2 separate regions of the Homo sapiens genome follow, and region 1 is linked to region 2. The links come from fine-mapping of genetic effects on gene expression. Tissue or cell type: nasal epithelium. Region 2 holds a variant in brackets; the other region holds the start of a gene. All regions are shown on one strand. Distances are between the middles of the regions.

The links. PIP is the estimated chance that this variant, and not a neighbour inherited with it, causes the effect.
Region 1: it holds the start of DNAH5, and the variant in region 2 is fine-mapped to the expression of DNAH5 in nasal epithelium (TOPMed, PIP above 0.99).

Annotation. Positions count from the first base shown.
Region 1 is chr5:13,943,037-13,947,036 of GRCh38, reverse strand. It overlaps DNAH5 (dynein axonemal heavy chain 5), which reads left to right and starts at 2,349. Exons shown (of 79, transcript NM_001369.3): 1 at 2,349-2,655. The coding sequence starts at 2,599.
Region 2 is chr5:13,737,256-13,741,255 of GRCh38, reverse strand. DNAH5 (dynein axonemal heavy chain 5) reads left to right here. Exons shown (of 79, transcript NM_001369.3): 66 at 3,761-4,000. Among named protein-coding and RNA genes, the nearest start is that of DNAH5-AS1, 120 kb to the left of the region's middle. The variant C/A (reference allele first, on the strand shown) is at 1,645.

The DNA.
Region 1 (4,000 bases), 210 kb before region 2:
TGTGAAATCAGAATGCACCTTAAAATGGATATGTTGAATAGGCAGCATTATTTTTTCATTCCGAGTGTTGCATAGGATAATTATGCATTCTACAATTAATATTTTTAAATGTCTGAGTAAACATCTGTTTTTATTAGCTGTTCTATTCATAGTGTATAGCGCAGCGTCTGGCTGCGTAAAAGGCACTCACGAGCTTTTGTTCAATGAATGAAAGTGGAACTTCAAACTTTGCCTGCAGGTACTTGGATTTCTGGATGAAGCCTTCCGCCCACATGAGGTCCATTGTCTACTCTTGTTTTCCCATTATGTCTGACAGGATTTGTGTATGACCAATATTTTCAGCCTGGAAGGGTGTACTATCCGCACAGACGGGGCTGCAGACCTCCCTCGTGTGAGTCCTATATATAGAGCCCTGCCAGCTGAAGCTCTTGCCTGGTGGAAACTATTTGTAGGCAAGCCTTTCTGAGTTTCCTACCGAACAATGTTTGATCATTTCCCTCCAAATGCCAGAAATTGACTTTCATTCTGGCAGGGGCTGGCGGGGGTAGGTGGCCTGTTGTAAATTCAGCCTTGGCTTGCTTTGTTTGTGTTGTTCAACAACTTCCAGTGAGCCTGAGCGCTCAAGAAGATACCTTAAGACGCCATCTACCTTGCCCGAGGGGTTGAAATTCAGCCACACAGACTGGAAGGCTTCCCGGTTTGCTGTGAAGCCTCAAGGGAGTCATGGTTATGCCTGCCAAACACAAAATGCATGCCATCAGCCATCTGTGGAAATCTTCCCAGGAAGTAACTCTCCCCAAGCGATGCGTTGTAAATGGGCTGCTGCTGCAATGAGGATGGTGCCTAAAATACCATTAGGGAAGCACCGATTCAAATGTAACTAATGAAAGATAATCGGCGATGTAATGAATTGTAACATGTTTGTCCTGAGGTCATGTGTTGACAGAGGATTCTTGGGATGGATAGGAGATGCCATGTGAGGAGGATCCGATCCTACTGCTATTTTCTGGTGTCTTCAGCACCACACAGAGAAGGGACTCAGAGTCTAGATACTGTCTTCAACACTTTTTATTAGAAACGGACAACAGCCGCTTACCAACAACCAGAGGTTGACTTCAACAAATATCCTGCAGGGCCTGGCCTGGTGGCTCATGCGTATAATCCCAGCACTTTGGGAGGCCGAGGTGGGCAATTGCTTGAGGCCAGGAGTTTGAGACCAGCCTGGGCAATGTGGCCAAACCTGTTTCTACAAAAAATACAAAAATTAGCCGCGTGTTGTGACACTTGCCTGTAGTCCCAGTTACTAGGAAGGCTGAGGTGGGAGGATCACCTGAGCCTGGGAGGTTGAGGCTGTGGTGAGTGGTGGTCACGCAACTGCACTCCAGCCTGTGTGACAGAGTGAGACCTGCAGGTCTCAAAAAAGAAAAAAAAAATCCTGCAAACAAACTTAAACTTCCTGTGTTCTAGTTATTTACTTACCAAATAATATTGAGGTCTAAATGTTGTCTGTTAACCTGACATATGGAGGCCGTCCGTGCCCTAGCATTGGATATGGACCAAGTGAATCTCCATGTTCTGAAACCATGTCAGCACCCTGCCTTCCAAGTCAGGCTCCACAGAGGTTGACTAGCAGGATGTTACCAGGATGAGTTCCCAATTTCCTGATTATCCTTGGATGACCTTTTAGGATTTGAGTTGCTGGACTGTGAATTCCAAGGACTAAATTCTAGATTCAACAAGACCAACCTTAAGTGTCCTGCCTTTTATTCAACTCGATGGGAGAAACCATACATGAGAGATCTCTCAAAGCATTTGGCAGTGTTTTCCCATTACATCTTCACAGTTAAGATGATCAAGATGTTTAGCCACATAGGATAAATTACCTTGGCTGAAGTGTATGTGCAACTGTGTGAGCACAAGTAATTTATGGACATGGTTTGCTATTTGCATATGAAACAGACTTCTTGTTCTTTGTGGTGGAGAAAATGGCTCCTATGGGTCACAATTAGCCTATCTGGCAATTAGTCACAATTAGTCACAATGCTGGCAGTGCATCGTGCTTGCAAAGTTGTTTACACAAAGTAAGACTGAGTTTCTCGACATGGACAATATATTCAGAGCTGTGGCTTCTTGGATTTCTAATCTGATATGGTTTAAAGTTTCTCATTGTTCAAAGAAACTATTTAGATATCACTGTTGACTCAATGCTTATTATTGGGCAGTGAATAGAATTAATTGAACAACAGAAGGAGTTGTGTTGCTACCGAGCAGTTAAAATGCTTTGATTGCTTGATAAACATGATTAAGAGGCATGGTTCAACTGTATAGTGTATAAACAATATTACCCTAACAACACCAGGCTTCGAGAGAGAGGAGAGGCCCAGGGCAGACACTCTAGGAGAAAAACTTGAGTGGTATAAGTGGAGTTTTAATTTTTATTCTGTGAATGTAGTGAATAATACATGCAAATTAGAAACGTGAAAGTAAAATGGAAGTAAAACTTTCCATTTGGAAGCCTGTTGGATGTTGAGCAGGTCTGCCAGGAGTTAGAAGACCATTCCGGAAGAGCTGACTCCAGCCTGTCCATGCACGGCTACAATGTTTAGGATTGGGAGGAGACAGCTCTGGAAGCATAGCGTCACTCGAGTTTTAACGGTAAGGTGCTGTTGTCTGTACCTTTGCATGTGTGTTTTGGATTATCATCTGTCACACCTGGGTGGAAAAAACAAACTTGAAAAAGGTTCAAAGTCACACACTGATGAATTTGCGAGAAACACATTTTTTAACTAATGTTCACCTGGTGCATAGGCTACATATTCATTTTTTAAATAAAAAAAATTTTGCATCTGTAGGCTTTTCTGCACGTTGCCGCTTAAACTACGCACCTAGAAATTCATGCTGCATCTTTTGGGAAGATGCTTTCCTGGGGTCAAAAACACATTCATAGTGGTTTGGGCACTTTGTATTCTTTCAAACCTGTAAACTTTAGTTGGTGATTAGAAATAGTTAAGGCAGATTCTAGGCTGCAAGGTTTAGGCTTTGAAATCACTCCCCTGTTCTATATGCCTGCAAATGAGGTCACAGACAGTGAGATGCAAGGCTGTGCCTTTGGAAATCACATTGAAGAATGAACTTCCCTAGCACAGGGCTCAGCTCAGCAGCTTTTTATTATGCAAATGCATAGAGAGGGATTTGGAAACCTCTTCCACTGCCAATTAACGTCAGAAGAAATTGGAGGTTTCTCTAGGACTCAGTTCTCAACCATTAACCCATGCTTCCTACTGGGCTTGATCACTGTGTCTTTTTGTGTATCCCCAGAAGCTCACATGATCCCCCCTAGCCTGTTGTTTTTACCACAAAAGAGCAGGCATCTACCTCTGAATTTTTTAAGTATGCCACCATCTGCCACCCCTCACTTGCCCAAGCCACAAGATTCTGATGCATCCTTCCCAAGGTGAACGTCTTGCAGCCAAGCCCCTGAACTTGCTTGCTAGAGTTAGAAGACCATTCTGGAAGAGCTGACTCCAGCCAGTCCATGCACTGCTTATTCTTCAAGACCAAGTGCTAGTGTTACCTCCTCTGAGAAGCGTCCCCTGACACTTTGAGGAGGAGGTGTGAGTTTCCTTCCTGTACCCTGTCAGCACTTTCCTTCGATGTCTTATAGAGTCCTTGTCACATCACTGTAGTGAAATGACATTTACCCACATGTCTCTTTCTCTTGCTAGATTGCGAGTTCTCTCCATTTTAAAATAATCTTCCTTTAACACAGAGCTTGGTCCATAGTATATGCTTGGTCCTTAATATATGCTTGTGGAATAAGTTGAATGAATTAAACATTTCACATGTCTGAACATTTTTCCTGTGCTTCAGTACCAAGTCTGAAACACCACAATTGATGATAAAATCTCAGGTATAATTAATGAATTATTCTTCCTTGACATGAACTATGTTTTGAGAGTAAGTCAAGTCTTTTGGAGGTTTCAATTATATATTTAGGATG
Region 2 (4,000 bases):
TAACCATTCAATCAGTGGTGATTAACTGGCTGAAACATAAAGCAGAGGCCAGGGGTCTTTGCTGTTTGCCTTCATGCAGTTTTGTTAACACCTCCTTTATTTTTAATGTCATGGTTTTCAGAGATTGAGCATTTCCACATCTGCATTTCTGGCACAAAGACTAGATTTTCCAGTTCACTGTGTGTTTCAGTTTATCAATTTGAAAAGAGATGCAACATTTAATCATTCAATCTGCAGTGTTAATGGAGTGCCTACTACGTACCAGGCTTTGTTTCACTAATTTAGGAATTTATCAATGAACAAAATAGACTAACAGACCAAACTATCCCTGGAGCATAACATATAAATAATTTATGTATTATGTTAGAAGGTGGTAAATGCCATAAAAGGTACAGACACTGGTGAGCGGGAGAGCTGGGGAGTCAGCTGGTGGGCTAGCATTTTAAAGAGGGTGGTCACAGTGGGGCTTACTGAGAATGTGACATTTGAGGAAGACTTGAATAAGGGAAGAGAGTGAGTTATTTGGAAGAACAGACCTGACAGAGCAGCAGCTAATGCAGAGGCCCTGAGGCAAGAGAGTTCCTTGTGTGTTTAAGACAGTGAGTCTCAAAGCATGTTTCCTGGAATAGCAGCATCACATCACATGGGATTAGAAGTGCAAATTCCCAGATGCTGTTCCAGGCCTACAGCACAAGCCTTCCAGGTGATCCTAATGCACTGAAATTTGAAAACCACTGATGTAGGAAATAGCAAACGTGGCTAGAGCAAAGTGAAAAAGGGGAGAAAAGTAGGAAATGAAGTCCCAGCAGTAATGAAGGAGGGGGCAGCTTGGTAGAGCCTTATAGGCCTTGGTAAGGTCTTTACCTTTCACTCTGAGTGGAAAGATTGGCCACTGGAGGGTTTTGAGAGAGGAAGTATGTTTTAGTAGCATCATTCTGACTGCTGGGCTGGGAGTAGACCAGGGGGTAAGGCTGGGGTAGGGAGACCTGTTTAGACCTCCTAATTTAGAGGGGGGTGACAATGATAGTTTAAACCAGGGTGGTGATAGTGGAGGGAGTGAGAAATGATTAGATTCTGAATCTCATTTTGAAGTGGAGGTCATAGAACTTGCCAATGAATTTGTTGTTGAATTTGAGGAGAAGAAAGTGACCAAGCAGGGTTCAAAGGTTTTGGCCAGAGCATCTAGAAGAATAGTGTTGCCATTTGCTGGGCTGTGGAAGGGTGAGGTTGAGCATGTTTGAAGGGAGGATCAGACGTTTAGTTTTGCTGATGGTGCTAAGTAGGAGAAGTCTCTTAGATGTCCAAGTGGAGAGTTGAAAGGAGGTATGATCTGAAGCTGAGATATAAACTTGGGAGTCATCAGCATAGCGATACTGTTTAAAACAAAATGTAATTCATGGAGTAGTATGGGGATAAGTTTCTCGTAAGCATAAACTAAGTACTAAAAATGAATAATTGTAAGAGCCACTAAAGGGAAGAACTTGCGTAATGGTTAACAGTGACGGTTTGGGCTGGGTCTGGCCTCTCCTTTCCCTCCATGTCTGTGTGCATACCGGATCATAACAAAGGTAAATTGTGTAATTAATCATGTAATCAGTGAATAGTCCATTATGTTTTATATGGTTTCATATGATTCATCACTGC[C/A]TCACTCTAGATTTCTGGCTCTCTCAATAGGGAGTAGAATCTATAAAACCTACTGTATTAGTCCATTCTCTCACTGGTATGAAGAAATACCCGAGACTGGGTAATTTATAAAGGAAAGAGGTTTAATTGACTCACAGTTCTGCATGGCTGGGGAGGCCTCAGGAAACTTACAATCATGGCGGAAGGCAAAGGAGAAGCAGGGACCTTCTTCACAGGGTGGCAAGACAGAGTGAGTACAAGCAGGGGAAGTGCCAGATGCTGATAAAACCATCAGATCTTGTGAGAATTCACTCACTGTTATGAGAACAGCATGGGGGAAACTGCCCTCATGACCCCATTACCTTTACCTGGTGCCACCCTTGACACTTGGGGATTGTGGGGATTACAATTCAAGGTGAGATTTGAGTGGGGGCACAGAGCCAAACCATATCACCTACTGAGTCATATCCAGAGTACCCAATTGAGAATGTAGATTTCTGAAGCTGGTCTAGAGATGTGAGCTTGGTACCATACGTTCAGGTAGCTGCCGTGAGTCCAGTCAGAACTGTCAAACGCACTGTCAAAATCACAGGTAAAGCTCCTGTGATTTTGCTGTTTGTCACCTGCACTTAACCCTGGTTTCCCCGTATTTTACTTATAATGAATTGTACATTATAAACGCAGTTAAACATAGGCAAATTGTCAATGGACTCCACATCCAGGAAGCTCTTCAAATAAACTCTCTAATACATAAGTTTCATTTTAAATTTGTACGTATCATTTTATTGTTCTTTCCATTTTTGATTCTTTTCTTTAGCATCACAGATAGAGTCTCTCATATAGCAAGTTGATATCCATGTACAATTTGACTTGGTGCCAGAAGCATATTTCTGTTTTGTCTCCCTGCCTTTGGGCTTCCTCTTCCTGTGGCTTGCTTGGTGTCACACGTATTTCTCCTTCTCCCACCCCTGCCACCACCTCCATCTTTTCTGTCCTTCTCTTCCTCTGTCTCTCCCTCTCCAAGCTGCCAAGAGGAAGAAAAGGCCAATAAGGATAATAGTCTTCCAAGGCTTCACTCTCCCAGCTGTCTCCAAAGCTCCCTCAGAAAAGATGCAAAACTTTTCTGCTTTTGGAGAGAACAGCAGGCCAAGAAGACTTTTCAATTTAAACGTGCTCACAGTTGCAGCTCAGTTGCTTGCCTAAGATTTCGGAGAGTAGTTTTTCACAGACTTGGATACTTTTTCAATTAGCAAGTTTGAAATAACCACATTTAAACAATAATGGAACTCTCTTAAGAAAGTAGACAGAAGTAAACCTATTTAATCAGAGATATATATCTTTGTCTTCAAATATATTTCCCCTTCAAAAGAAGATTTTATATATATAATATTAAATATAATCACAGCAATCACTTGAAACTGATGTGACTTGAGAAAATAAATGGGTGATTAAAGGGATGCTGGTAGTATTTTTTGCAGGTTTCATGTTGCTTGGCACCTATTCTTCCTTCCTCTGTTACTTCTCCTCCTCCTTTTTTTTTTTTTTAACATTTTATTTTTTATTTTATTTTATGTTAGAGTCTCACTCTGTTGTCCAGGCTGGAGTGCAGTTGCATGATCTCAGCTCACTGCAACCTCTGCCTCCCTGGCTCAAGGGATTCTCCTGCTTCAGCTTCCCAAGCAGCTGGGACTACAGGCATGAGCCACCATGCCCAGATAATTTTTTTGTATTTTAGTAGAGACAGGTTTTCACTATGTTGGCCAGGCTGGTCTCAAACTCCTGACCTCAAATGATCCACCCGCCTCTGCCTCCTAAAGTGCTGGGACTACAGGTATGCGCCACCACGCCCAGCTATTTTTTTTTGTATTTTAGTAGAGATGGGGTTTTACCATGTTGACCAGGCTAGTCTCGAACTTTCGACTTCAAATGATCCACCCGCCTCTGCCTCCCAAAGTGCTGGGATTACAGGTGTGAGCCCCTGCGCCCGGCCCTTCTTTTTTGATGTCCATATTTCCTGCAGTTGATTATGATAAATACAGTATGGGAGCTTCAAAGCAGCCATGTAGGTTAACGTCTTAAGGAATACTCAACAAGAGTTGTTAATTGAGGTAGAAAATATATTTATGCAAATTAATAGGAATTGGAGAAAGAAAGAACTCATCTGATGGAAGATGTAACTGCAAACAAAAGAAGGATGAAGGAACTAGAAGATAACTTGCTTTACCGCCTGACAAGTACCCAGGGGTCCCTGGTAGAAGATGAAAGTCTCATTGTCGTGCTGAGTAACACAAAAAGGACAGCCGAGGAGGTGACACAGAAGCTAGAAATTTCTGCTGAGACAGAAGTTCAAATTAACTCAGCCCGGGAGGAATACAGA